Linked DNA regions of Homo sapiens. The protein of the gene in region 1 interacts with the protein of each later gene in a pairwise test. Each region holds a gene or a part of one and is shown on either strand. Other genes may lie near its edges.

Evidence for each region.
Region 2: the proteins of TSC22D2 (region 1) and STK39 interact in a two-hybrid assay, tested with the Homo sapiens proteins (one study listed by BioGRID).
Region 3: the proteins of TSC22D2 (region 1) and REV1 interact in a two-hybrid assay, tested with the Homo sapiens proteins (one study listed by BioGRID).
Region 4: the proteins of TSC22D2 (region 1) and WNK3 interact in a two-hybrid assay, tested with the Homo sapiens proteins (one study listed by BioGRID).
Region 5: the proteins of TSC22D2 (region 1) and ITGA2 interact in a two-hybrid assay, tested with the Homo sapiens proteins (one study listed by BioGRID).
Region 6: the proteins of TSC22D2 (region 1) and KIAA0586 interact in a two-hybrid assay, tested with the Homo sapiens proteins (one study listed by BioGRID).
Region 7: the proteins of TSC22D2 (region 1) and FLNB interact in a two-hybrid assay, tested with the Homo sapiens proteins (one study listed by BioGRID).

The regions. Positions count from the first base shown.
Region 1 is NC_000003.12:150,463,610-150,466,922, reverse strand, and holds the end of TSC22D2 (TSC22 domain family protein 2), read right to left. Parts: 3' UTR 501-3,313; downstream 1-500. UniProt on the Homo sapiens protein: Reduces the level of nuclear PKM isoform M2 which results in repression of cyclin CCND1 transcription and reduced cell growth.
Region 2 is NC_000002.12:168,160,596-168,164,095, forward strand, and holds part of STK39 (STE20/SPS1-related proline-alanine-rich protein kinase), read right to left. Parts: intron 3,286-3,500; coding exon 3,144-3,285; intron 3,138-3,143; exon of another isoform or gene 3,127-3,137; coding exon of another isoform or gene 3,047-3,126; intron 1,248-3,046; coding exon 1,192-1,247; intron 1-1,191. UniProt on the Homo sapiens protein: Effector serine/threonine-protein kinase component of the WNK-SPAK/OSR1 kinase cascade, which is involved in various processes, such as ion transport, response to hypertonic stress and blood pressure.
Region 3 is NC_000002.12:99,406,518-99,410,017, reverse strand, and holds part of REV1 (DNA repair protein REV1), read left to right. Parts: intron 1-1,886; coding exon 1,887-1,989; intron 1,990-3,500. UniProt on the Homo sapiens protein: Deoxycytidyl transferase involved in DNA repair. Transfers a dCMP residue from dCTP to the 3'-end of a DNA primer in a template-dependent reaction.
Region 4 is NC_000023.11:54,355,247-54,359,363, reverse strand, and holds the start of WNK3 (serine/threonine-protein kinase WNK3), read left to right. Parts: upstream 1-1,317; 5' UTR 1,318-1,678; intron 1,679-4,117.
Region 5 is NC_000005.10:52,992,352-52,995,851, forward strand, and holds part of ITGA2 (integrin alpha-2 precursor), read left to right. Parts: intron 1-3,500. UniProt on the Homo sapiens protein: Integrin alpha-2/beta-1 is a receptor for laminin, collagen, collagen C-propeptides, fibronectin and E-cadherin. It recognizes the proline-hydroxylated sequence G-F-P-G-E-R in collagen.
Region 6 is NC_000014.9:58,486,719-58,490,218, reverse strand, and holds part of KIAA0586 (protein TALPID3), read right to left. Parts: intron 3,213-3,500; coding exon 3,053-3,212; intron 2,333-3,052; coding exon 2,110-2,332; intron 1,599-2,109; coding exon 1,345-1,598; intron 56-1,344; coding exon 1-55. UniProt on the Homo sapiens protein: Required for ciliogenesis and sonic hedgehog/SHH signaling. Required for the centrosomal recruitment of RAB8A and for the targeting of centriole satellite proteins to centrosomes such as of PCM1.
Region 7 is NC_000003.12:58,147,922-58,151,421, reverse strand, and holds part of FLNB (filamin-B), read right to left. Parts: intron 3,217-3,500; coding exon 3,058-3,216; intron 2,774-3,057; coding exon 2,570-2,773; intron 1,573-2,569; coding exon 1,420-1,572; intron 1,318-1,419; coding exon 1,195-1,317; intron 1-1,194. UniProt on the Homo sapiens protein: Connects cell membrane constituents to the actin cytoskeleton. May promote orthogonal branching of actin filaments and links actin filaments to membrane glycoproteins. Anchors various transmembrane proteins to the actin cytoskeleton.

The DNA.
Region 1 (3,313 bases):
TATACTTTTTATAAGGGAAACTCTTTATAAAAAAAAAGTGAAGTTAGAAAATGAAGAGATAGAAAACTACTAGAGTAATGAAATGATCATAAAGAGAAATTAGGAGTAAAGCAGTTCAATAAGATATGGGATAGAATTAGCAACAAAGTGATCATCAATGACCTTGACAAGAACAGTTTCAGTGGCACAATGGGAGCTAAAGCCAGACTGCGTTTGTGATAAGCTGTACGTGGAAGAGGAAAAAGTGGAAAGGAAGAGGAAGGAGCTGAAAAAGCAAGTGAAGGGAACATATTTTCAGTTAGGGGAGGTGGTCTACTCATTTATTGGCCAGTTATTTATTGAGCCTGTATAAATACTGATGTGAAAAAGCCATGGGAGAAGGCGAAGTAGAAGAAACAGGTAGGGGGGGAAGATATTCCTGGGGAGGAAAGATGCTGAACATGATGAGACCCCAGGTACCAGGGGGAAACATTAGCAGCAGACAAGAAGAAAACACATTATTTTATTTTATTTCTAATTTATTAATTTGTCATTACACAAACAATACATAAATGCATATTCAAAAACATCAAACATTACAGTTAAAGCTAATGCACGCTACCAAACTACTGTTGACAGTTTGGTTAGTATCCTTCCAGACCTTCTCTCTATATAATACACAAATATGTACTTGTAGAAGTACACTATACAGTATTTGTGTGTGTGTGTGTGTGTGTGTGTGTGTGTGTGTGATGTGATTTAACATCACTAGTATCATATGTATTACAGGTATTGTCTTTCAATTTTTCCCCCAAACTTTTAACATTGTCTCCTGGAGATCCTTCCATGCCGGACATGTAGGACTCTCTCTTTTTCATTGATACTTAATACTTCATCATGTGTACCATAGTCCATCCTCTTGATGAGTATTTTGGTTTTTCCAATTTCATAGTATTACAGTAGCTCCCCCATCATGGAGGATATTTTCCAAGACCCTCACTGAATGCCTGAAACCATGAATAATACCAAACCCTCTATGTACTATGTTTTTTTATGATCTGATAATAGAAATGACTAATGGGCATTATAAAATGGGTATATAATGAGTGTATACATTGTGGATACACTGGACAAAGGGATGATTCCTGTCCCAGGCAGGATGGAGAGGGATAGTGAGAGATTTTTATTATACTATGCAGAAAGGTTTGAAGTTTAAAACTTATGTTCGTTTCTGGAATTTTCCATTTAATATTTTTGTATTGTGGTTGACCTTGGATGACTGAAACCTCAAAAAGTGAAAATGCAGATAAGGGGGTCTACTGTACAAGCAAAGGTGCAATTGACATCATTGTACAGGCTATCTTGTGAACACATGTATGTTTCTTTAGGACATTAAAAGTTGGAATTGTTAGGTCACAGGGTATGTGACTTTTAAAATTTAATGGGTGATACACAATTGTCTTTAAAAGAGGCTGTGCCAATTTGTATGCTCACTAGCAATGTATTCCTGTTTTTCCACACCCTTTCCAGCTTTTGATTTGTATGCACGCTAAATATTAGTTGGATCTGAGATGGTTTCTTGTGTTTTAATGTGCACTTCCCTTATTTTGCTGAGATTGAGCTTCTCTTTATAACCTATTTGTAAAGTTCTTTGCTTATGTGCATTTTCAAATGGACAGGGTATATAGCTTCATAGCTTCCAATTTCTAAAAGGGAGTAACCAAAAAGTAGAAGACTAACTGCTAGTCTAGCTAGAATTAATTTTTGTGAAAGATCTAACTTTATATTTCTTCTAAATTGTTATGCTATCCCATACTATTTGTTGAATAATCCATTTTTTCCTTACTAATTTGAAATGTCACTTTTATTACTTACTCAACATATTATTTGTGTTTCTGGATTCTCAGCTGTATTAGAGATTTATTTTTGGTATCAGTCACCTGAGTTATTCTTAACTTGGTTCATTAAATGGTAGCTGATTTTGTCAGCCAAGATAATAAGTGTCACTTGTTGCTTATGAGACAATAGACAATATAATTCATGACACATGAATCCTATTCTAGTTAACTTTGATTTAAATCAATTTCATTATCTACAACTTAGAGTATTAAAAATGTGTAAACTTTTCTCAGATTAGTTCCTCTTTTTTAGGGAATACTTCATAGGCTCGATGTCGAGGTGGAAGGCTTTTCCCCTCCTTCTAAAAGTATTATTTGATGTTAAAGCTTTCTGGTGATTTAAAGTTGTTTCCTGGCAATATCAAAGGATTTTTACATGGGATGGCAATATTACTGTTGATTTATAAAAACCTTTCATTTAACAAATGATATAAGGTTCACAAACTATAACATATACTCTGAATAAACAATATGGCACTTTAACTTTTACACTTACACTGGACTGAGCTCATTGGAGCACACAAATCATGTCCCATTCATCTTTCTATCCCCAAACATCCAGTACAGGTTGCAGCACCTAAATTGAAATAGAATTAAATTGCATGTCAACATTTTTTTTATAAAATAAAAAAAAGAAACCTAAATTTCTTGAAAACATCACTTTTAGGGTTTTACAAAGTCATACATGTTTCTTTTTATTAGCCACTGACCTGTTATTATTTCCATCTCAAGTGTGGGGAAAATGTTCCCTTGCTGTCTCTGATCTTCCTCAGGTATGATATGACCTATCTATAGATACATTGCATGCCTGTGAAATGACAGCAAGAACTGTGATCCGGATAACATTTGGATTGCAGCAGGCAAGAGTATTTTACAGTTGTTATATGGAAATATTGTAGGCATGCAAAAGAATGGAGAGATGAACTTAACTTTTTTATGGAGAAGTTGAACTGTGGCATTTGCCTTGTTTTAAAATTCAGTTGTTTTTATGATCTAAGTTAGCACACCTTTCCCTTCCCTCCAAGGGGATAAATATGGCTTCTGTGGACAATGTTGTAGTCTGTAAACTTAAATACTATGGACCCATGACAGTAGACAATGGGAAAATTCCCCAAACTGCCTAGTCTATCAGTTTCCCTGCTGAGAATGAAAAATAAAGCTAACTCACTCACCATCCAGGTATGCTGAACAAATTCAACAACTAAATGGACTGCGCCAGTGCAAAATACCAGCGTCTTACTTTGCCATCACCAATCTGAAAATCTGTCTTATTTTTCTTATTTGATGATTCCATGGCGGGGTTCGGGGGGGTGGTGGGCAAGCAAGAATGTCTGTGAACTTTAACTTGCTTCAGAGTGCCTCACTTAGCATTTTCATCTATGAACACAGCATGTCATACCAATTGTACTCCACAAAAGATATAGTTACAGTAGCAC
Region 2 (3,500 bases), on another chromosome or scaffold:
TATATTTTTACCCTTCTTTAAGGAAACTGAGTCTTAAGAAGGTTTGGTAACTTGCCCAAGGTGGTACAGCTACTAAGTGGTGGCCTCAGAATTTCGATCAAGTCAGCTGACACCAGAGCCTGCACTCTGAACAACTAGACTGCTTGGGGCTGGACAGTTTGAAATCTTTGCCCACAGATGTCTCTTAGCTGTTACTTGTTTAACTGAAGTACTTTTTCAAACTGTCCTTAGCCTATGGGATAAGGTCCACTCATGAGGACAAGATATGCACACACAAAGCACTAACTCAGATGGCTCAACAACAAAATCCAGCCTCCACGATGAGGAGAGGCACCAGAGTCGGGGGGTGGGGGTGGGGGGCAGCAGATGAATCAAGAATTGCCAAAGATTGATAATTATTGAAACTAGGTGATGGGTACAAGTGGGCTCATCTTACGCGTCTCTGCAATGACAGGGTCACTCCAGTAGAGGGAATGACTGTCTAGCCAAAAAATGCCAAGAACACTCCCCCAAGAAACCATGAAAGCTAAAAGGATTGCTGAGACAGACTTTCAACGACATGGGTAAAGCAAGAGTTAATATGGGCGTGGCTACATCTTATCCCAGGCCTTTAAGGTTACTCTAGGGCCAATAACAAAATAGAGGCTTTGAACACGAAAGGTGCTCACCTGATATTGTGTGTTCATGTAAAAGACATTCATTGCATCCCCAGCCTACCAGCTTTGTCAAGAATAGCCATGTTGGGTCAGAGTTAAAAACAAAATAAGGCCCAGATTTTTAATGTTCACAATTCTTTCAGATACCTCTTAAGAAATAAATTAGTTTTTAATTGATGTGTATGATGTTTTAAATTTTCAAACCTATCGAAAAATGTTTTTACAAGTGCATTTCTTGAAGTTATATGAGTATTACCATTATAAAATGTGAAAGGTAGAAAACATAATAAAATTGAAAATAAAATTATTCTTTATCAAAAAGCTATGTACTAAAATGGCATTTTTCACAGGATGATCTAATGACTTATCAAAACAATAAGGAAAATATGTTATCCTTCGGACCCAAACATTCTGTAAATATCATTCTGAAAAGAGATTACATGCATTTATTCATTTCTCAGGAATGATTCTACATTCCTTGAAACTGTAACACTTCCGTAATCAAGTAAAAAATTTTTCTATTTATCAGCTTTACCTGCTATTTGTACTGAACCATCCTCACCCAGAAGAATATTACCAGCTTTCAAATCCCTATTAGAAAAAAAAATAGAAAATAAATTGTAGGGTACAGACTTTATAGTGTATTGATTCACTCAGGAAGATTTTAAAACATATCATACAACGCAGCTCTTTGACATAATAATTTCATAAATATTAAGATAATAGCACAGATTTTAAAAGTTATAAGGATAGGCTGGGCACAGTGGCTCACGCCTGTAATCCCAGCACTTTGGGAGGCCAAGGTGGGTGGAGCACCTGAGGTCAGGAGTTCGAGACCAGCCTGGAAAAAATGGTGAAACCCCATCTCTACTAAAAATATAAAAATTAGTTGGGCATGGTGGCAGGTGCCTGTAATCCCAGCTACTTGGGAGGCTGAGGCAGAAGAATCACTTGAACCTGGGAGGTGGAGGCTGCAGTGAGCCAACACCGTGCCACTGCACTCCAGCCTGGGCAACAAGAGTGAAACTTGGTCTCAAAAAAAAAAAAAAAAAAAAAAAAAAGGTATAAGGATCCACCTGTCACTTTATAGTTTACTCGTGGGGGAGAGTTAGGATTTTAGAAAGAAATATTTTCTATGAAATAATTATCCAAATTTAATTAAATCATCAGTAAATAGACTCTCTATTTTATGCTTCAGAGTTAGACACTGCCCATAAACTCACACTACTGTCATTCTACCAAGTATTAAAGCCCAGTCTATGTAAAGCTCCTCTACTTCCACTTAAATTTGGGATGCAATTCCAACTTAATTATCTTTCTGAAAAATGAACTTCTCTCTGGTGAGAGACTGATTATAAATACTAATTATAATAATAGATATTATATTTCTTCACCGTATAAAACCTGTGTAATCTTAGTACTTTGAAAAATGACAACTTGCAATTTATAAATTTGATTTCTAAAGTAACTTTTTTCTAATTATTGAAAAATATAGGCCAGCCACAGTGGCTCACGCCTGTAATCCTAGCACTTTGGGAGGCTAAGGTGGGCAGATCATCTGGGATCAAGAGTGTCAGTCCAGCCTGGCCAACATGGTGAACCCCATCTCTACTAAAAATACAAAAATTAGCCAGGCATGGTGCCGCATGCCTGTAATCCCAGCTACTCGGGAGGCTGAGACAGGAGAATTGCTTGAACTCGGGAGGCAGAGGTTGCAGTGAGCTGAGATCACACCATTGCACTCCAGCCTGGGCAACAGAGCAAGACTCTGTCTCAAAAAAAAAAAGAAAAAGAAAAATATAGTAGAAATAATTAAATATAAATTTCAGGGTAGGAGAATTACATTATTAGTATTACTGGTAAATGGCTATTTACTTGCAATAATTCCTAAGAGCCCAAGTAGCACTCACTCACTTGAAACATCAAGCACTCATATTCTATGTGATTTGACTATGTAAAGAATTAACATTTTATGTCACAAAAGAAGATGAGTACCTCTTCCTTCCCTCTCACCACCACATCAAAAATAATTCACATAGTACAATGTTTGGATAGTCTTGCTTGTATTAGAAAGATAGAGATGCTGTCTAGTTCAACTAGTATAATTCAAGAGTAGTTACCAAAACTGATCTTTTTAAATGAGTCCATGTAGTCCTTTTTAGATTCCACTCTTATTTCAGTGAAAGCAACTGAAGCAATCCCAAGGATACCAATATAATTCATCAAAATTTATTCTCTTGTTTCTTTCTTAAGTACTTTTTTCCCATCTATTTAGACTAAGTTAAAGTAATGTCAATACCTGCCTGCAACATGTGTTTCCTTAACATTCTTTACAAACTAGGGCTGAAGATATGAACATCTGAATTTAAACATCTCTGCAGAGGTCACACCTGTGAATCTGACCGTTTCTGTGTAGACAGTCTAAGCCTTCCAAAACCTCTTTAAGATATGAACATCTGAATTTAAACATCTCTGCAGAGGTCATACCTGTGAATCTGACCGTTTCTGTGTAGATAGTCTAAGCCTTCCAAAACCTCTTTAAGAATTGTTGCTATTATTGCCTCTTCCAGAACTCCATTCTTGTGTTCTCCTCGGTTGACAATGTATTTTATGATATCCAACATTGAACCTAAGTAGACAAACAGAAGAATTAAAACATAAGCACCTTCATCACCTTTTCAGAACAAGACTCCATTATGTATAAAATTTAATAGAAACATCAAAATATGGGCTTTATTTAATGCAAATATTCCCAAGGCAAACAAACAATTGAATGGGGGCCCCATGACCAAAAACACTAAATCCAAGTTTGCAAGAGCACTTTCAGTGTGAATTTAACGAGAA
Region 3 (3,500 bases), on another chromosome or scaffold:
ACACAAAGGCAGACTATAGTAGCTAGAAAAATGATGGTGAAGGAGAGCAACTTCATTTACATAGGTGTATACATTTAATTGGTAAAAAGATGAATGAATCACTGTAATGTCTGAAAACTGGTAAAAGCATTTAAAAACGCTGTTTTTTTTGGGGGGGGGGGGGGTTGTTTGTTTTGAGACAGAGTCTGGCTCTGTCACCCAGGCCTGAGGGCAGTGGTGCGATCTCGGCTCATTGCAACTTCTACCTCCTGGGTTCAAGCAATCCTCCTGTCTCAGCCTGTTGGGTAGCTGGGATTATGGGGCATGCCACCATGCCCAGCGAATTTTTGTATTTTCAGTAGAGATAGGGTTTCACTATGTTGGCAAGGCTGATCTTGAACTCCTGACTTCAAATGATCCGCCCACCGCAGCCTCCCATAGTGTTGGGATTACAGGCATGAGCCAATGTGCCCGGTCTGAAACACTCGTCTTTTATGTCAGGGCCAACTACTTAATATTAAACTTCATGTAAGATTCGTGACCAATATGAAGATGTGTGGTTTTACATGTCATTTTATATTGCACTGTATTTCATCTGTGAAACCAAAATTTTGAGACTTTTGACACTGAAAGCTACTTACAATATGAAGTATAGTTTCATTAAAGATTAGCTCATGCCAACCATACATGGTGCATTCATGTATATGATGATATTGCTAAGTCGTGAGACGACTGCTCTTAAACAGAGAAACTCCCAAGTTACCATGAAAGCAGGAATTATAAATTACAATTAGAGAACATAATTTATAAAATACATTTTTTATCAGTTGGTTATCTTGAATTATATTTACCTACCTGTTATGATACACATGTATCTCAAATAGTAAATAGTGGTCATTTATTTATTTACTTTAAAAACTTATTTATGTAGAGACAGGATCTCGCTCTGTTGCCCAGGCTGGCCTTGAACAATCCTTTTGCCTTGACCTCCCAGCGTTTTGGGATTACAGGTGTGAGCCACTGTGCTCAGCTTTTAGTGGTTATTTCTATAAGCAGATGAAGTAATGTGATTATCTTCTTAAACATTTCTATGGGAAAATCCAATTCAATTTATAATAATTTTTTCTGGGAATATTTCTTGTTTAATGGCCTGGAACTTCATTTGTTCATTATACATGGAAAGGATCATCCAAAACACGAAATAACTTTCCTTTGGAAAGAGAACTGGTAGTAATTTGTTAATCTGTTACTGAGTTAGTAATTCTGTTTGCAATGGGACAGCCCGCTCATGCCAGAGAAGCTCAAAAGGCTCTGAAGGAAATGGTGGGTGAGGTCAGCACATCTTTGAGACCTAATAATGCTGATGGACCATTTGGTCCTCCTTCAAGAGTTCTTAAAGATCTAAGAATTGTTTATTGGCTGTACTGTAAACACAATGAAAGGAGAGTCAAGAAACAACATACAGAGAATTTATCTTTCTCTTCTGAATATTTGCTATACCTCAGCATACATAATCTTGGAACCTAAAACTTCTCTTGGAATCAAGAACATTGTGTTTACCATTCACTTGTGCTTTAGCTGGAAAATATGTATTTATTTGTGCATATGTTAGCTAAAATCTACCTTTTTCTAAATTTCTCAACTTATTTTTAGTTGACCTAAGTGTCCATTACGGTTTTTACCTTAAAGTTCTAGTGTTCCATAATTTTTCTTTCCCCCTTGGTTGCCAGTGTAACTAATTTGGTATTTCTGGCTTCCTTGAAGGGAGACTATGGCATTCACTTTTATAATCTTCTTTGTAACTGTTTACAACTTTTCTATAACTCTTTTAAACAGTTCCATACTACTTTAGTACTAGTGAATACATATGGAATGAAGCTTTTGTTTTTTAATTCTATCACTTACAGGACTGTAACTCTTGACCAGGCAACAGATAATGCAAAAATAATTGGAAAGGCGATGCTAAACATGTTTCATACAATGAAACTAAATATATCAGATATGAGAGGGGTAAGTATATAGTAACATTGTAAATTCTGACTTTGTGTAATGTATCTCTCATTTTTGAGGCTTGCTCTCAAAAGGGTTATTGCTGGTGTATAGGGACTTTATATGTAGGTCTTTAGCTGCTTTGTAATACAAGGAAAAGAGAAACAAAAATTCTTGACTTCCTCCATTTTGACCTCCTTCATTTTAGAATAATTTTCTTAGATTCTTACTGTACTTTTCCAAGGTACCCCTGATTAACCAGGGGCTAATATACATGTCTTCCCTGTTCTTGTTTCCTAGAAGTAGATATGACTGTGAGGAATATGAATACATAAATTTTGTACCTTTAAGTTCCTTTTTAATCAGAAACATACTCTGCATCTGCTGTATGATGACCTAGAAGGGAGTGAAACCACAGGCACATCAAGATGCCTTTGAAACAGGCAAGAGGCATCAAAATGTCAAAACCATAGATTTTTGTGTGGGGTTTTTTTTTTTTGAGACAGTTTTTGCCCTGTTGCCCAGGCTGGAGTGCAATGGCGTTGTATCGGCTCACTGCAACTTCCGCCTCCTGGGTTCAAGCAATTCTCCTTCTTCAGCCTCCCGAGTAGCTGGGGGTACAGGCACCCGCTACCACGCCCAGCTAATTTTTTGTATTTTTGGTAGAGATGAGGTTTCACCATGTTGGCCAGGCTGGTTTCAAACTCCTGACCTCAGGTGATCCACCCACCTCAGCCTCTCAAAGTGCTGGGATTACAGGCACTTGCCCCCATCTCTACTAAAAATACAAAAATTAGCCGGGTGTGGTGGTGCATGCCTCATAGTCCCAGCTACTCGGGAGGCTGAGGCAGGAGAATCACTTGAACCCAAGAGGCAGAGCTTGCATGAGCCAAGATCGTGCCACCGCACTCCAGCCTGAGTGACACAGTGAGGCTCTGTCTCAAAAAAAAAAAAAAAAAAAAAAAAAAAGAACCTTTGTAGGTTTAGTTTTATGTGTGCATATGTAAGTAAAGGGTTGTTCTGGCTTGATGTGGGCTTTGTTGAAAGATTAGTCACTAAGCCAGCCGTAATTGTGATTTCTCCCTGAAATACTGTTATAATGGCACTTTATGGAGGGGTCTGCAGTGTACCTGCTGTTCATCACTCCCGCCAATATTTTTTGAGAAGTATTTCATTTAAAAAAGATAAAAATAGTGAAGTTTCCAAGTAGACTGTCCTCTCTTAATTTTTTTTTATCCTAATTTAAAACCTTAGTTGACGAGAACATCAGTGGAATACAGTATTCCACTTGTTTGGATTTTCTGATTTTAAAGATCTTTTGGTATATTTTGGGAGAATTGGATACTCTGAAGTTTGAGATGAATGACCACTCACTAGCTACTTTAGAAATTGTTTTTGTAATAAGTCATATAGAATGCTGTTTGAATACTTTCATTTACCTTTATTCTAGAAACAGGATCCAGGAGATAGTGAAAAGGATTTGCTGAGGATTTTGCTTAGCTGAATTCATATTTTCACTTTAGTTTTCCTAG
Region 4 (4,117 bases), on another chromosome or scaffold:
GCTCTGGAGTGAGCACACCTGGGTTCAAGTTCTAACTCCACAAATAGTATGAAGTTGAGCAATTCATGTCCATTTCCCCTCCTGAGCCTCAATTTCCTCCTCTGTCGGGCCGGGATTATTCATGGGAGAATGACGGAAACAATTCTATACTGCTTCTGGCATAGCACAGGAAGCAGTTTGAAGCCGCTGCGCCGAGGCTAACATGTACCGAAAGCTCGAAGGAGGCAGCATTCACTACCAGCTAGAGGATCTGGGAGTTTTTCAAGGAGGTGGCCGGTGGGAGACACAGAGAGCCAGTCTCAGTGGGAGGCAGCCTTTCCGCATGCGCGCGCTCTAGAAGCCTGGCGGCGGCGAGGGGGCGGGACCAGGTCTCTGAAGGGGTTGCTATGGCACCAAGGGGCCGAGGAGGTTCACCGAACCCTTAAAACCATTGCTCCCTCCCCCACCTGCCACCATCAGGGCCGAGGGCCATTGTTCCCGGCAAAATGGCGTCGGAAATCCCCCTCCCGGTCAGAGGCCTAAGTAAAACTGAGGGTGGGAGTCGGACCATAGGTGGGAAGAAAAACTACAATTCCCAGGGTACATCGCACCCGTCTGCGAGGCGCAGGGCACGTGCCCAGGCCTAGCGGTTACATGCCGTCAAAAATCAGTTTCATAGCTTCCCTTTCCCATCCCTGCTTTGGTCGTTTCCCAGCCCCCGCGCGCGCGCACTGCGGTCCTGGGGGGCGGGGGAGACATGCCGTGGCTGTTGCCCCCGCAACGTAACTGGGAGGCCAGTATTTGTAAATCGGTGCTTCGACTTCTAATCCCAAAGCCGGCAGGTATGGGTCTCGCGAGAAATCCCGGGAGTTGGAAAAAGGGAGTCAGGGGTGGCGGGCGAAAAGGTGCCGGCGGGTACCACCTCCTAACAGCGGCGCTACAGCATTCAGAGGCTCGCGGAGACCCAAGGGTGGGCAGTGGGGGGCTAGGAAGTAGTGTGTGCTTGGACTTTTCTTCTTCTTCTTCTTCTCTGAGGGGAGAGGGTAGAGCAGCTGAGAGAGAGCGAGAGCGCTTCGGAACACACAGGAGATGTCGCGCGTGCTTCCTCTAAGAGATTTTCTCTTTGGAATGGGGAGAAGCCTTTCTCCTCGACGCGCATCCCTCTCTCCCGCGGCGCCGAGGGGGGCGGGAGGCGTGCGCGCACTCTAGTTGGCTGGCCACTCGGCACCTCGCTGCGATAGGGGCGGTTCCGAGTTGGGGCTGCTCCGTTGGCTTTCTCCGCCCCTCCCCCTCTTCTGTTCTCCCCTCCCTTCCCCGCCCCCCCTCCGCCCCTCTCTCCTACCCGTCCGAATTCCCTGGCTGGAGTACGCGTGCGTCTGCTCAGCTCCGGGCCGAGCGCGAGCTTGGGCTCGTACCCCGCTCCCCTCTCTCCGCCCGCTCTTTACCTACCGGCCGTAGCTGGCCCGGTGGGCTCGCGGGGAGACGCTCGCGCGCGCAAGCGCACACGACGCGGAGCGGAGCTCGAGACATCGAGGAGAGGAGTAAGAAGCATCGGAGGAGGCGATCGAGGAGGAGGCGGTGTGTGTGTATGTGTCTATTCTACGGTGTGGCTCGTCGTGGGGCGAGAGGAGGCTCGAGAGAGGGCGAGGGAGAAGCGAAAAGAGTAAGAGAGTCTTCCTTTGCGAGAGCCTCTAATCTGGTGAGGGTCCCGGGCCGGCCGGGGCGCTAGGAGAGAGGGAGGAGGCCGGGGGGCGTGTCTGGGATCGGGCTGAGAGATGAATGGGCCAGGGATGAATGGAGGGAGGCAGCGGCGGCCAAGAGTCTGTTAGGAGTAAGCGCCCTAGCGGGGGGCGGCTTGACCGAAGCAGGGTGAGTGCCTTCACCAGTCGGTACCGGACGAGGCCGGGCTCCGGGCTAAGGGGCTGTCGAAACTGCTGAATAGGCGGAGAGGAAAATGAACAGGGGGAAAGTGGGGAAGGGCAGGTTTGAGGCTGAGGTGCGTTTTTTGTTTTGTTTTCTTTTTTGTTTTTGATTTTTTTTTTGGTTGTTGTTGAGGGGTGACAACTTTGGGAGCTGATGGAAGACCAGGGGACGGGGAAGGTGAGGAGGATACAGGAGGGGGACAGGAGACGGTTGACAAAGGACTGAGTGATCACTTAAGTGAGATTGAAGCTACTGAAAGGGAAGATCGCTTCGGGTGTGGGAAGTTCAGTTGTATTGATGGGAATAGGATGAAGGAAAGAGTAGATTTATTTCAGAGGTTCAGCTGATGTGTGAGGGACAGGATGGGGTGAGAAATATTGCTGGCTTGTGTAAATGTGTTAGGCTCAAGGAGATTCTGAGGTGTTATTTGGGAAGGGGTGGTGTGTGTTGTGTGACTGACAGGTTGGGGATGGGGAGGAGATGGTATGATAGGTGAGGATGAAAGTGGTGAGGTGGCTTCACTGTACTGAAAGAGGTTTTGTTTGACTAGTTAAAAGTGGTGAAACATTTATATAATGGGGTGGGGGTGGAAATCCTGCACGTGAGTATCTCCGTATCTTGGGGGTTGAGAGACTGTTAAAATGAGACTGAACCCTCAAAACAGATGCGAATAGTATGGCTATTTTTTCTTAAGAGTTACTGTTGATTGAGACAATTATATGAATAAAACAGCTTTTGAGTTGTGAAAATCTTCTGCATAGTAGTGATTGTATCCAATTTTTGGAGATACCGTTATCTGTTTTTCATCTATAGTAAGTTGTAATACCAAGAGAACTTTTGAAGAGGTCTTAGTATGTGACAGAGCAGCGGGTGTCTTTTAAGACGGTCTCTATCCTTTGGATTGATGAGTTTAAAAATTGTTTAAACTCGACAGCTCAAGGGAAAGATACCTTGCATTAAAGGATAGCAAAAATGCACTAAAGCTTAGCCGGGCGTGGTGGAGCGTGCCTGTAATCCCAGCTACTTGGGAGGCTGAGGCAGAAGAATCTCTTGAACCTGGGAGGCAGAGGTTGCAGCTAGCCAAGATTGTGCCACTGCACTCTAGCCTGGGCGACAGAGCGAGACTCTGTCTTAAAAAATCCACTAAAGCTGACTTTGAACTAAAATAATTGTACATTTTTTTTGGTCATTACGAATTTATCTTTGAAAATTGGCACTCGCTTTTTGGTGTGAGTTTAAATTACAACAGATTACGTGAACATTTTGTTCTCTGAATACTTATCTTCTGATAAGGATGTCTTGTCCTGGTCTCATTCTGTTCTGGGTCAAGATTAACGGTTATGGATTTTAATCTTTTGTGATTATTTTTTACACATTTTACTGATATATATTTAGTTTTCTTGGAAATGTTGCAAACTTGAGAACATTCCCATGCTGTTTTTCTTTTATTCTGCTTTGATATTGGAAAGAGTGTAATCCTTGTTTAGGCTACCCGCAGTTTGAATACAAAAGGTCATATTCTGTTCATAGTCTCTCAGATTGAGATGAATACTTAATGTATTAAATAGTACAGTAGAAGTATAAAGGCACTGTAAGAGCCTGGAAATGTTGCACTAACTCAACCAGGCAAGGCGGCCTCCCAGTTTTGAACTAGATGTTTCTAGATGAAGGACATTCACATTTTGGGTCTTGAAAGTGTAAGCATGGTATATTTGGAGAATGGAATGAGATAAGGCTGGAATCTTAGGTTGAGGCTGGGGTGAATTAGGAACTCTTGATTGTTTAAGAAGGGGAATAACATAAACAGATTTATGGTGTTTCTCTCTCTGCCTTTGCTTCTGATGTCCCCCTCTACCTGGAATGCTCTCTCTCCCCCTCCCCTAGAATTTGAACTCATTCTTTTAAAACTTAACATTTGTCACCAGCTATTCCTGAAAGCCTTTCCTGGTTTCCCTTTCTTCCTTTTCCCAGCATCCTCCACCAAGCTAGGTTAGGTCCCCCTCTTTAGAGTTCTATCATACCTTGTACATAATTTTATTACGGTACTTTGGTTGGGAGGCAGGTAGGAAAGGTATTTTTCTCCTTCTATCTGAAAAAGAAATGAAGCCCAGAAAAACAAGACATGCCCTAGTAAGTGGTGAACCCCGGAGTTCTGACTTCTAGACCATTGTTGATCTTCATATCACAAGTTTACATTTGCTTAAATAATTATAGT
Region 5 (3,500 bases), on another chromosome or scaffold:
TATCTCCAGCCAGCCTCCCCTTCTGAGTTCCAGATCAGTATTTCCATCAGCCACCAAATTTCTCCAGCTAGACAGTCTGTAAGTAAGCCAGATTCAACATTTCCAAAACTGAATTTAATACGTGTCCTCCAGAATTTTCTCCTCTATTGGCTACCATTGTTTAATGGCAGTATTATTATCACACAAACATGAAAGCCAGGAATTTGTCCCCATGTTTTCAACCTCACAGCCACTCTCCAAATTCTCTTGGCTCTCCTCCCATCCATGCAACTCCTGCCACCCAGTCAGTCCCTCATCTTATGTCTGTATGTAACTTTTAAACTGGATTTTCTTTTCTTATCTCTCCAACCCATTCTCTTCATTTTCACTAATGATATCTTTCTAAGACACTTATATGTTTCCAATTACTGCTTTGTTTCAAATGTTAGTGGCTCCCCATCTCAGGTAGGGTAAAGTGCCAATTTCTTGGCATGTCATAAAAAGGTACATTCTACCTATCCAATCTTTTCTTTACTGTATGCTTTCCTGAACACAAATACACATTCACACACACACACCACACACATGCCCACACATGTACACACTCTAAAGCCATCTATATACACCATTCTTTGTTATGACTACACCTGATCATACCATATTTAGTGTGAAAATATTTTCCAAATACTCCCTTTGCCTTCATTGCATTGTTGCTTTCACCCCTTTTCACTCATCTCTTTGCAACTGACCATTATCCAATGCTAGAAGGGTCAATCCCAAGCAAAATTATAAAGTAGAGAACTTTTACTTTTGCAACAAAAAGGAAAGCTTGAGGTAACCTACCTTTGCTGGGTCCCACCCTAAACCACCTCTCTGGTCTCATCCTCAGCCCCTTAATGGGACTTAGGCCGCCCTCTGATAAAGTAACTTTGCTCCCCTATGGCTTAGCAGTTATACCTGCCCAACCTCAGCTAAGCTTTGCTCTCTTAATACTAGGTCCTGAGCCACTGTTTGACTTAAATTTATGGACTGGGGTTTAGGATTCAGTATTTACAATGGCTCATATATTTCTGATGTATGGTCTGGTTTGGAAGTGATTGCTTAAATATCATCACTGCCTCCCCACTTTCCTAAGATTAAAATTCCAGTGTTACCTACCCCTTACCACCTTGTGGGATGATCACCAAGACAGGTAGATTTCAACATCAAGAGTTAGTGGCTGTGAGCGGCTGTGTCAGTTAAATTCCTTCCGAAGTGGATGATGACTACTCCCTGTCTTCATGTGCTGACAGCCCTGGAGATATTAAAAGGTAGAAGCTTGTTAATGTAAAGAGATGAGCTTCTCATGATGTAATTTTAGACATTCAGCAAAATAAAGACACATGTTCAGTCAATGTGTATAAAGTCAAGAATTTCAGGAAGAATGGGGAAAATATTTGGGGCCAAAAGTGTCCAGGCATCACATAAATTCTACCACTAAAGCCATAAGTCTTGACTACCAACACTGCTCAGCTTGGGATATTAGTAAAAGATTTAGCACAGCATAAAACAAGAGAAACCATGAAAGATCACCGCTCTGATTGGCAAGTGAAAGAAATGGAAGGTTGGTGGAGTTCTTTTTTTCCAGTTGTTCAGTGACCAATCATTTACCAGCAGAACATACAGAAGAGTGGCTCCCTACAGGGGAGAATCCTAGCACTGCAAATCATGAGACAATAGACTCTGTGTATGACAGTGATTCCTATGCCCCTTCAGGTGATCCATAGAGGCTTTATTGATCTGGCTACAGTGAATTTCATAAAACTAATACTTGATAATATTCTTATAAGGTATCTACTTTATGTAAGGCTGTGTGTTAGGCTCAAGGTGGAATCAGAGAAAACTTAAAACATGGCTGAGAGAGGTTGGAGTTTATTTGGAAAAAAATCCAAACATGGGGAAAGGAAATTGTCTCAGCCCTGAAGCATACTTAACCAATTTCAGCCCCTTGTCATCTTCCTTTCTAGCAGAAGTCCATTTATTGAGTTACCATCCTCTTCTGCATAGCTAAAAAATTGAGGTGATGCTGAAGGGTGATTAGGCTGGTCCCAGGCATCTGGGCTGTGTCTGATTTAGCCATGGGCATGTAATGCAAGGTTGACCAATGAGATCTGCTGGGTGACTTATGGGAAAAGAATTTTCATTCCTAAGAGAGATATTTGTTAAAGAAAATATTGTCAAGTTTATATGTGAAATTTGGAACAACTACAGCCATCTTGCAACTGCGATGTCAACTAGCTTAAGGATAAAGCTAGTATATTGGAGTTAGCCTTATGGAAAGAAATGGACTTTGATGTTGTCTTTGAACTTCTGAATTATTGGAATTTAAGACTATAGTATGTCTTGGTGTCTTTAAAATTTTCATATAATTTAAAACTTGGTTATATCATTTTCTATAACTTAGAGAGCTGTAACATCAGTTTCCATAGCATAATAGATGTCATGTGTTCACAATTAATGAGTGGTACAGATAACATGTTGAATTCAGAGGATGGAGAGATATCATTGTGATACATTGAAGTGTCTAGCCTCCTGAGATGTCTTCATGGAAACAGGTAAGAATCATTACAATTTAGATCTGCCATGAAGAACCTCAGAGATCCTGGAGTACAGTTTCTACCTTTTAAAATGGATGTAAGTGATACTAGAAAAGCAAGCAACATAACTAGCAATAGGACTCGTCTCCTAGTTCCTGGGGCAGATGTTTAGGTTCTTGAATAGAATACTGACGCAATGAAAACAGAAGGTCCTTATGCCCACAATGTGGTATTCAAGTTGTTCCCAGAGAGTGAAAGCTGAGTTGCAGCCACCAGACCTTGAAGGGCCTTGTAAGTCATGATATAGAGCAGGGGTTTTATCCTGAGAACAGTAGAAAGGTCTTGAAGGGCCTTGAGCAGGGGAGTGACATGATCAGATGAGGAGAGTGGGTTGGATGGAGGCCAGGTGGAAAGCACCAAGATCATTTAAGAAAGAATATGTTTGGGTTTTAGTTTTAGTTTAGGAGACCAGTTGTGAGATGATGGTGGTAAAAACTCAGATAGTGGCAGTAGGGAAAGAGACTGGAGGATTTATTGGAAAGGCATTAAAGAAGAAGAGTGAACAGGATTTGATGATTGATTTACTATGGAGGTGGAGAGAGAGGGAGAAGATAAGGCTGATGCTTAGGTTTCTGACATGGACAAGTCAGTTGATTTTGTGCCATTCACTGAGATAAGCAGTGCTGAAGGAGAGCAAGTTGGAGGAAAAAGATGATCAGTTCAGGTCAACAGATTGAGTTTGAGACATCTGGATGTACACCTGGATGTATATGTCTAATTAGCAAATAGTTATATGTAGTGGCGTTAGGAACAGGCAGGAAAGTAAGATGGGGATAGAGATTTAGGAGTCATTGGCACCTAGAGAATAACTGAAGATAGGACATTAACAAGATGAGTCAGGCAAAGGGACTAGAAGAGGGCTTTGGCCATGGCTCAAGGAACTGC
Region 6 (3,500 bases), on another chromosome or scaffold:
GTGCTGGATAAGCTATCATTAAGGTTTGTCAGGTACAGTCCTATATCTTCTAAAACTAGAAATTAAAATATAAAAGTTTAGAAAAAAAAAAGAAACACAAACTTAGTAAATAATCTGACCATAAAGCCATAGCATATTAGATTCAAAATTATACTGCAATGGAAATACTGGCAAAGTTTATAAACAAGTAATTCACAAACTACTCAATCTTACCAGTTTTTTTGAAGTACAATTTATAACAAAGATGAGAATTTTGTTTAACCTACCAGTTTGTTAGAAATTAAAAACTATAAATATCAATTGTAGTTATGAAATTGAGAAACGGGTATTCTCATATACTGTTGATATAATTAAAACTGATTAAGAGCTAAAAATCCTTTCTAGAACTTAGAGCAAAGAAAAAAAAAATCCTTTCTAGAAAGCATGTTGGTGATGCATCTTTAAAGTAGACTCAGCAATTTCGCTTTTAGGCATGTATTCTAAGGAAGAGACCAGATAAGTGCACAAAGACATATATACATGAAAGGATGGTAATTAGAGAGTTGTGTATAGACTGAAAGCATTGAAAACAATCTAAATGCCCTCTATTAAGGGATTAAACAGACTACACAGCCAGAAAAGAAAAATAAGAAAAATATGGAGTTATATTAAAAGATATCCACAATATATTATTTGGTAAAAAAAAAAATTCAGGTTTCAGGCTGGGTGAGGTGGTTCAGGCCTATAATCCCAGCCCTTTGGGAGGCCAAGACGGGTGGATCACTTGAGCTCAGAAGTCTGAGACCAACCTGGGCAAAATGGTGAAACTTCATCTCTACAAAAAATATAAAAGTTAGCCGGGCGTGGTGGCACATGCCTGTAGTCCCAGTTACTCAGAAGGCTGAGGTGGGAGTATCACTTGAGCCCAGGAAGTTGAGGCTGCAGTGAACCATGATCATGCCACCTCACTCTAGCTTGCATGACAGTGAGAACCTGTCTCAAAAAAAAAAAAAAAATTCAGGTTTCAAAACAATATGCATAGTAAGATCCTATTTTTAAAGGTAAACATACATCCACATACGTATGTATTTATGTGTCTATATATGCATAGACAAAAAAGACTGGAAAGGCCTACCCCAAACCATTAATAGTGATATTATTTCTGGAGGGTGGGATTATGAGGAAGATTTTACTTTCTGAAGTTAAGACCCAGAAAAGTTAACTAAATTGCATTGAGTCCCCTATTCTTTCTACTATACCATGTTAAATCTTGAAAGTTAAGTAAAAACACTTTAAATAGAAAAGTATTACTTAGGGAATTAGCATAATCTAACAAGTAAAATCAACTAATACAAATTAACTTACTCTTGGGGGCCAATTTTTGACCACAGCTAAATAAAATCTCTCCTTCAGAGATGGGTTTATCTAAAGTTTCAGTTTCAGTGACAGTAACACTCAATGTGCTCTCCAGTGTTGATGAATCAGAACCTGGCATCTGTGAGGGGGAAGGGGCCTTGGTGCCGGCAGGAAATGGCATAAAGGGAACTGGCTCTGGAGGTGGAGGCTGAGCAGGGAAATCCATACTCTCTGGTTCTTCATCCTTAGCCACAGACATTACACTAAGAAAATAAAGACATATTTGGAGCTTGTTAGGTCACTGAAGGCCTGTATTCATTTTGATATAAAAAACAGACTCGAAGACTATGTCTCCTTTAGCAAAATATTTTTTTAAATCTGCACTACTATAATTAACAAGATTTTTAAAAGTTGTTTTCATGCTTTAATCATAGGCCATCTTGAAAGCTCTTCCATACAGAGAGATATAAAATAATATAAAAGTTAACTGATCATAGTAAATAATGATCCACAATAGGGAGAAATTGTTTTCTATTTTATTAACAATATAATAGATACCTTTATTTCTAGCTATTTCAAACCTTTTAAGAAAAAAGGTGAAGGTATAATTTGATAATTTTTCAAAACTCAACACTTATGAAAGTTCTTTCTTTCAAAGTATAAGGTAGTCTGTGGTTTATAAAGCTTTGTATAATATTTCTATGTTTTCAATGGATCACATAAGTCAAACATAAGTTGAAATGTACAGTTACTAGTGAGTATGTTCTCATTTACATAGCTCTTGGATGAAGTTCTTCTTGAGGTGAGTTAGGGTTCTCTTCTTCCAGTGGCAGGTCTCCATCACCCCATGGCTTGGGAAGCTCTGGGCTTGATACCTTCAATTTATCAATGGAAATATCTGACAAAGTTGGGGTAAAAACTGCCGCCGCTGGAGGAGGTGTAGTAGTAGGGGTAACTGTTGGAGTATTAACAAGCATGATGGCAGGCATATCATCTCCTAAAGGTTTTTTTTTAAAAGGACAGAAAAAGATAGTAGTCAGTAAAGAACTCCATAGGATGGCATGATACATTGCTTCAGATATCCCTTACCATTTTAGCACACAAATAATGGCAATTATAATTAATAATAATAATGACAATGGTGGTAGCCATTAATGTGATAATTCCTAAATTTAGTGAAGCGTTAAAAAATACCTTGAGAAGACATCATTGTTAATACCACCATATACTTAAAGTAGTCTAAGCATCTATTCAATTGTATACTTTTTTTTTTTTTGTGAGACGGAGTCTCACTCCCTTGCCCAGGGTGGAGTGCAATGGTGCGATCTCGGCTCACTGCAACCTCTGCCTCCCGGGTTCAAGCAATTCTTCTACCTCAGCCTCCTGAGTAGCTGGGATTACAGGCACGTGCCAACACACCTGGCTAATTTTTGTACTTTTAGTAGAGAGGGGTTTCACCATGTTGGTCAGGCTGGTCTCAAACTCCTGACCTCGTGATTCACCCGCCTCAGCCTCCCAAAGTGCTGGGATTACAGGCGTGAGCCACCATGCCTGCCTGGCCTCAATTATAGACTTTTAAGAAGTCGCAATCAATTCCTAAATTTCCTTGTGAGAAAAAATGATTTACTAAAACCTAGTAAGCAACAAGTACATATACAAATCATGAAATTTAATAGTTGCTAAAATTAAAACCGAGTTATAGAAATAAAGTTTCTACCTTTTTCAGCACATATTTCTTTCACAGGAAAAGCCATATCATGATCCGAATCACAGGGAGAAGAATCTGGAGTCTTTACCAAAACACACTCCTTAGCAGGTGATGAAGGTGAGCAAGGAGGCGTAGGCTGTGGGGTAGGCAGTGGGGTGCACACTCTTGCCTAAAATAAATAAAACAAGATAAACTGTGTTTATAATCACCCAAATAAAAGTAATTTGAAAATAATATGAACTCATTCATAGACTATATATAATTTAAATTGATGGCAGGGTTAAGTACCCTACCTCTTGAACCTCTACCTGTTAGTCTACGATTGGCCTGCAGCAAGTCTCAGGCAATTGAAATAACTCTGCCTCTGAAGTGGTCCCCACAGAATTCTAAGGCACCCTCTTTTAAAATAGAGAAGAAGTAATTTACGTTCCTACCAACAGTGTATAAGTGTTCTGTT
Region 7 (3,500 bases), about 92 Mb from region 1:
CAGCTCTTTTTTTTTTTTTTTTTTTTTTTTGAGAAGGAGTCTCACTTTGTTGCCCAGGCTGGAGTGCAGCGGTGCAATTTCAGCTCACTGCAACCTCCACCTCCCAGGTTTACGCAATTCTTGTGCCTCAGCCTCCTGAGTAGGTGGGATTACAGGTGCCCGCCACCACGCCCTGCTTATTTTTGTATTTTTAGAAGAGATAGGGTTTTGCCATGTTAGCCAGGCTGGTCTCGAACTCCTGACCTCAGGTGATCTGCCTGCCTCGGCCCCCCAAAGTGCTGGGATTATAGGAGTAAGCCACCGCGCCCGGCCCAATAAAGCTCTTTTTAAGTGATCATGTCTGAACTCTACAGTAATGAGGCTTTACCACATTCCCATGTGACCCGACGTTGATGTGACTACACAAGAAGAACCTGTTAACTAAAGCCAAGAAGGCGGAGTCGACAGCTCCGTGACTCGTTAGGAAGGATGGGAGATGCAGTGTAGAAAGACAACCCCCTCTCCAGAGCTCGCAACACAAGCTCCATCTGAAGACGATTTAGATTTCCCTTCTCTGTAGAATTTGTGCAATTCCACAGGACATGCCAACTTCTGGGCAGAGGAGCCTCAAAATTTTCACTCACAGTGGCTTCCCTCTGGAAGGATTCTTTATAGAAAGAACTTGGAACACATTTCAGACAGACTGTGTGACCTGTTGACTGGCTAATCGGGGCCCAAGAAGAACAATTCACCACCAAAGGGCTAGATGTGGCCCAGCGAGTTCTGCAGCACAGCCCTCGTTCTAATTTCAGGAATGAAAGAGAAATACTAGAAGGATGCCGCTGGGCTGCCACCTCTTAAATACTTCCAGACCCTGGCATCGGCAGGGCCAGTTCTTTCACTGACATGATTCTATTTGACAGATAGTTAATCTAAAAATCTAAAAGCATATCTACGTTTCCCCCATGTGACACAATAAAGCTATTTTTATTTGGAAGAGGAAAAAGGTAGCAAGGTAAACATTTGTTTTTCTTGGATGAGACTCTGTGAAAATAAACATAGAAGAACATAATGAAATGAAGTGAAATGAAAAGGTCAGCACAGCCGACTTGGATACTGTGTTCTGGGCCATGCCTAAACTTGGTTCCCAAAGGCACCCACTGCCCTGAAGGCTGGAGCCAAGGCTTCCCCACCCTACTAGTCCCCGACGCCCACCTGGGATTTTCAGGTTCAGGTCACAAATGCTCCCGACAGTGGCCACGGACGGGGCCCGACTGGTGCGGGTGATGCTCTCTTTGACTCTTCCCTCCCCACTGATCTTCACGGTAAATGGGCTCCCTGCAAGACCCAAGAAGGCTCCTGTGAGCAGGCCAGAGGCCAAGGCACAGCATTTACAGAAAACCCAAGCATCCCACCTGGAGGGGAATGGAATGCACATACCAGGCACGTGCTCGTCAGCGAATTTGGTGGAGACGATATAAACCCCAGGCACGGTAGGGAAGTAGGAGACTTTGCAGGTGCCATCTTCCAGGTCCTCCGTCTGGATGTCCACTTTGCTGGGGCCTTCCACCGCCAAGGATATGCCACCATAACCTGCAACACAGCAGCCCCAGGCTGTTCTGACAGCAGCTCCTCAGGAAGAGGGAGCCTGATGAATGGAGAAAGGACATCCGACCCTTACGCCTCAATCTATTTCTACATAGCAGAAAGAAAGCAATGGCGGCCTCGTTTGCAAAGCCCAGAGGGGGATGAGTAGGTTAAGCGTCCTGAGAAGCCCCATAGTGAAATAACCTGCTGAACCTGGTTTTGACCACAGAAGCCTTTCCTTAAGGATATTTACTAATATCCCATAGATGATGTGTCCCGTACAAACTGCTGGGGAGGACCTTCTGCCCTCACGCCTCCAAGTACTGCACGTACCACCTTGGGGGTTTATCCACAGCCAGATCTGAGATTTTGAATTTTTAAATAGCCCCTGGCTACCTCAGCTAGGTCAGCATATCCGAAGGTTTAACAGGGAGTATCTCCCAACCAGGACCAGAAATTCTCCAGCCCTCTCCCCGGGTTAGAATTTGTCTAGAATTCACCAGCGTGGCCATCCTTCAAGAAAGCAGATGACTGGAGGCACTGGGGTGTGGCAAGCTTGGAAGAGACACAATCTAACTCAAACCATCTCAAAGAGAAAACAGAAAGAGATGCTTCATTTCCACAAAAGCTCTGCTCAGATGACCATGGTCTTGGCCAATCAACCCAACATTCTTTGCTTGGAGAGACGCTGGGAAGCTGAGAACAAGGGTGGGAGAGCAGATAAGAAAACAGGGGTTTGCGAGGTGTTGTGGCTCTGGGTTCAGATCCTAGTGCAGAGGGGGCTCTAAACCTTGCAAGCCTCAGTTTCATCATCTAAAAAACAAAGACAATCCCATTTTTGCCAATGGTCATGAGGCATAAAAGACAATGCAGGCAGAAGGACCTATAGCTTGAAGGATGCTCAGAAAGGAAAAGGAGTTGGTAGGATGAAAAGATGACGCTGCCTCAGCAAAATAAGTCGGTTCCCACAAGCTCTGGGCCTCTCCCCTGGGACCACACAGACCTGCATCCCTTGTGTCCACGATGAAGTCAGACATCTCGAAAGTCCGGCCTTCTGACAGGCCGCGGCCATAGACTTTGGCTCGGCGGGCGTCACCAATCTCCGACTGGACCACCATGATAGACACGGGGCTGTTGGCCACATGGTTGCCATTTTTCTTGATGCTGACCAGATGTTCGCCCACTTCCCGGGGGATGAAGGAGATGCCTGGACCAGAACACAGATTGGGGCTTGTAAGGGGATGGCGGAGAGGAAGCAGGAGAGAGACACACTCTCAGAAATAGAAATATGTCCTCTTTCCTGACACCCAACAATCCAGAGTGTCGATATCACAATGCACAAATACGCTTGGGCATTTATCGTGCGTGTGACCCAGCAGGTTTATCACATCACACTCCATTGTGCTACCCATTCCCAAGAAAGGACTGCAAGAGTCCCCATCTCCCACCCAAGATGTCCTGGCTCCAGCCAGGAAGGGTAGCCTAGCTCACCAATGTGGTTGTTGGGCAGCCTCTTCAGGAGACAGGGCTCGTCTCGGCCAGATGGGGCCTTAATGCTGGCCGTCAGGCTGCTGAGGTCAGTCTCACTGATGTCGAGCAGGAAGTCAGCGGCTGAGCCCAACTTCACCTGGGAGCACCGCCTGCTGTCATCTGGGAAACATCCCCCAAAAAGGACTCCCGTTACATGTGGTTACCCTGGCTTCACAGAGCTGCCATGCCATATGCTGTTCACGGATGAACACGCAAGAACTAATTACACAAAGTTAAGTGAAAAAAAAATGAGCCTTGAACACTGAGTAGACCCAACCAATGAAGAATGATGGGATTCATGCCTGCTTGCAGCAAAGACAAGAAGCTGGCAGGACCTAGAGACTTGAGTCCTCATGGACCACATTTTAAAGGAATCTTTGGGCCAGGTGCCTAATCCCAACACT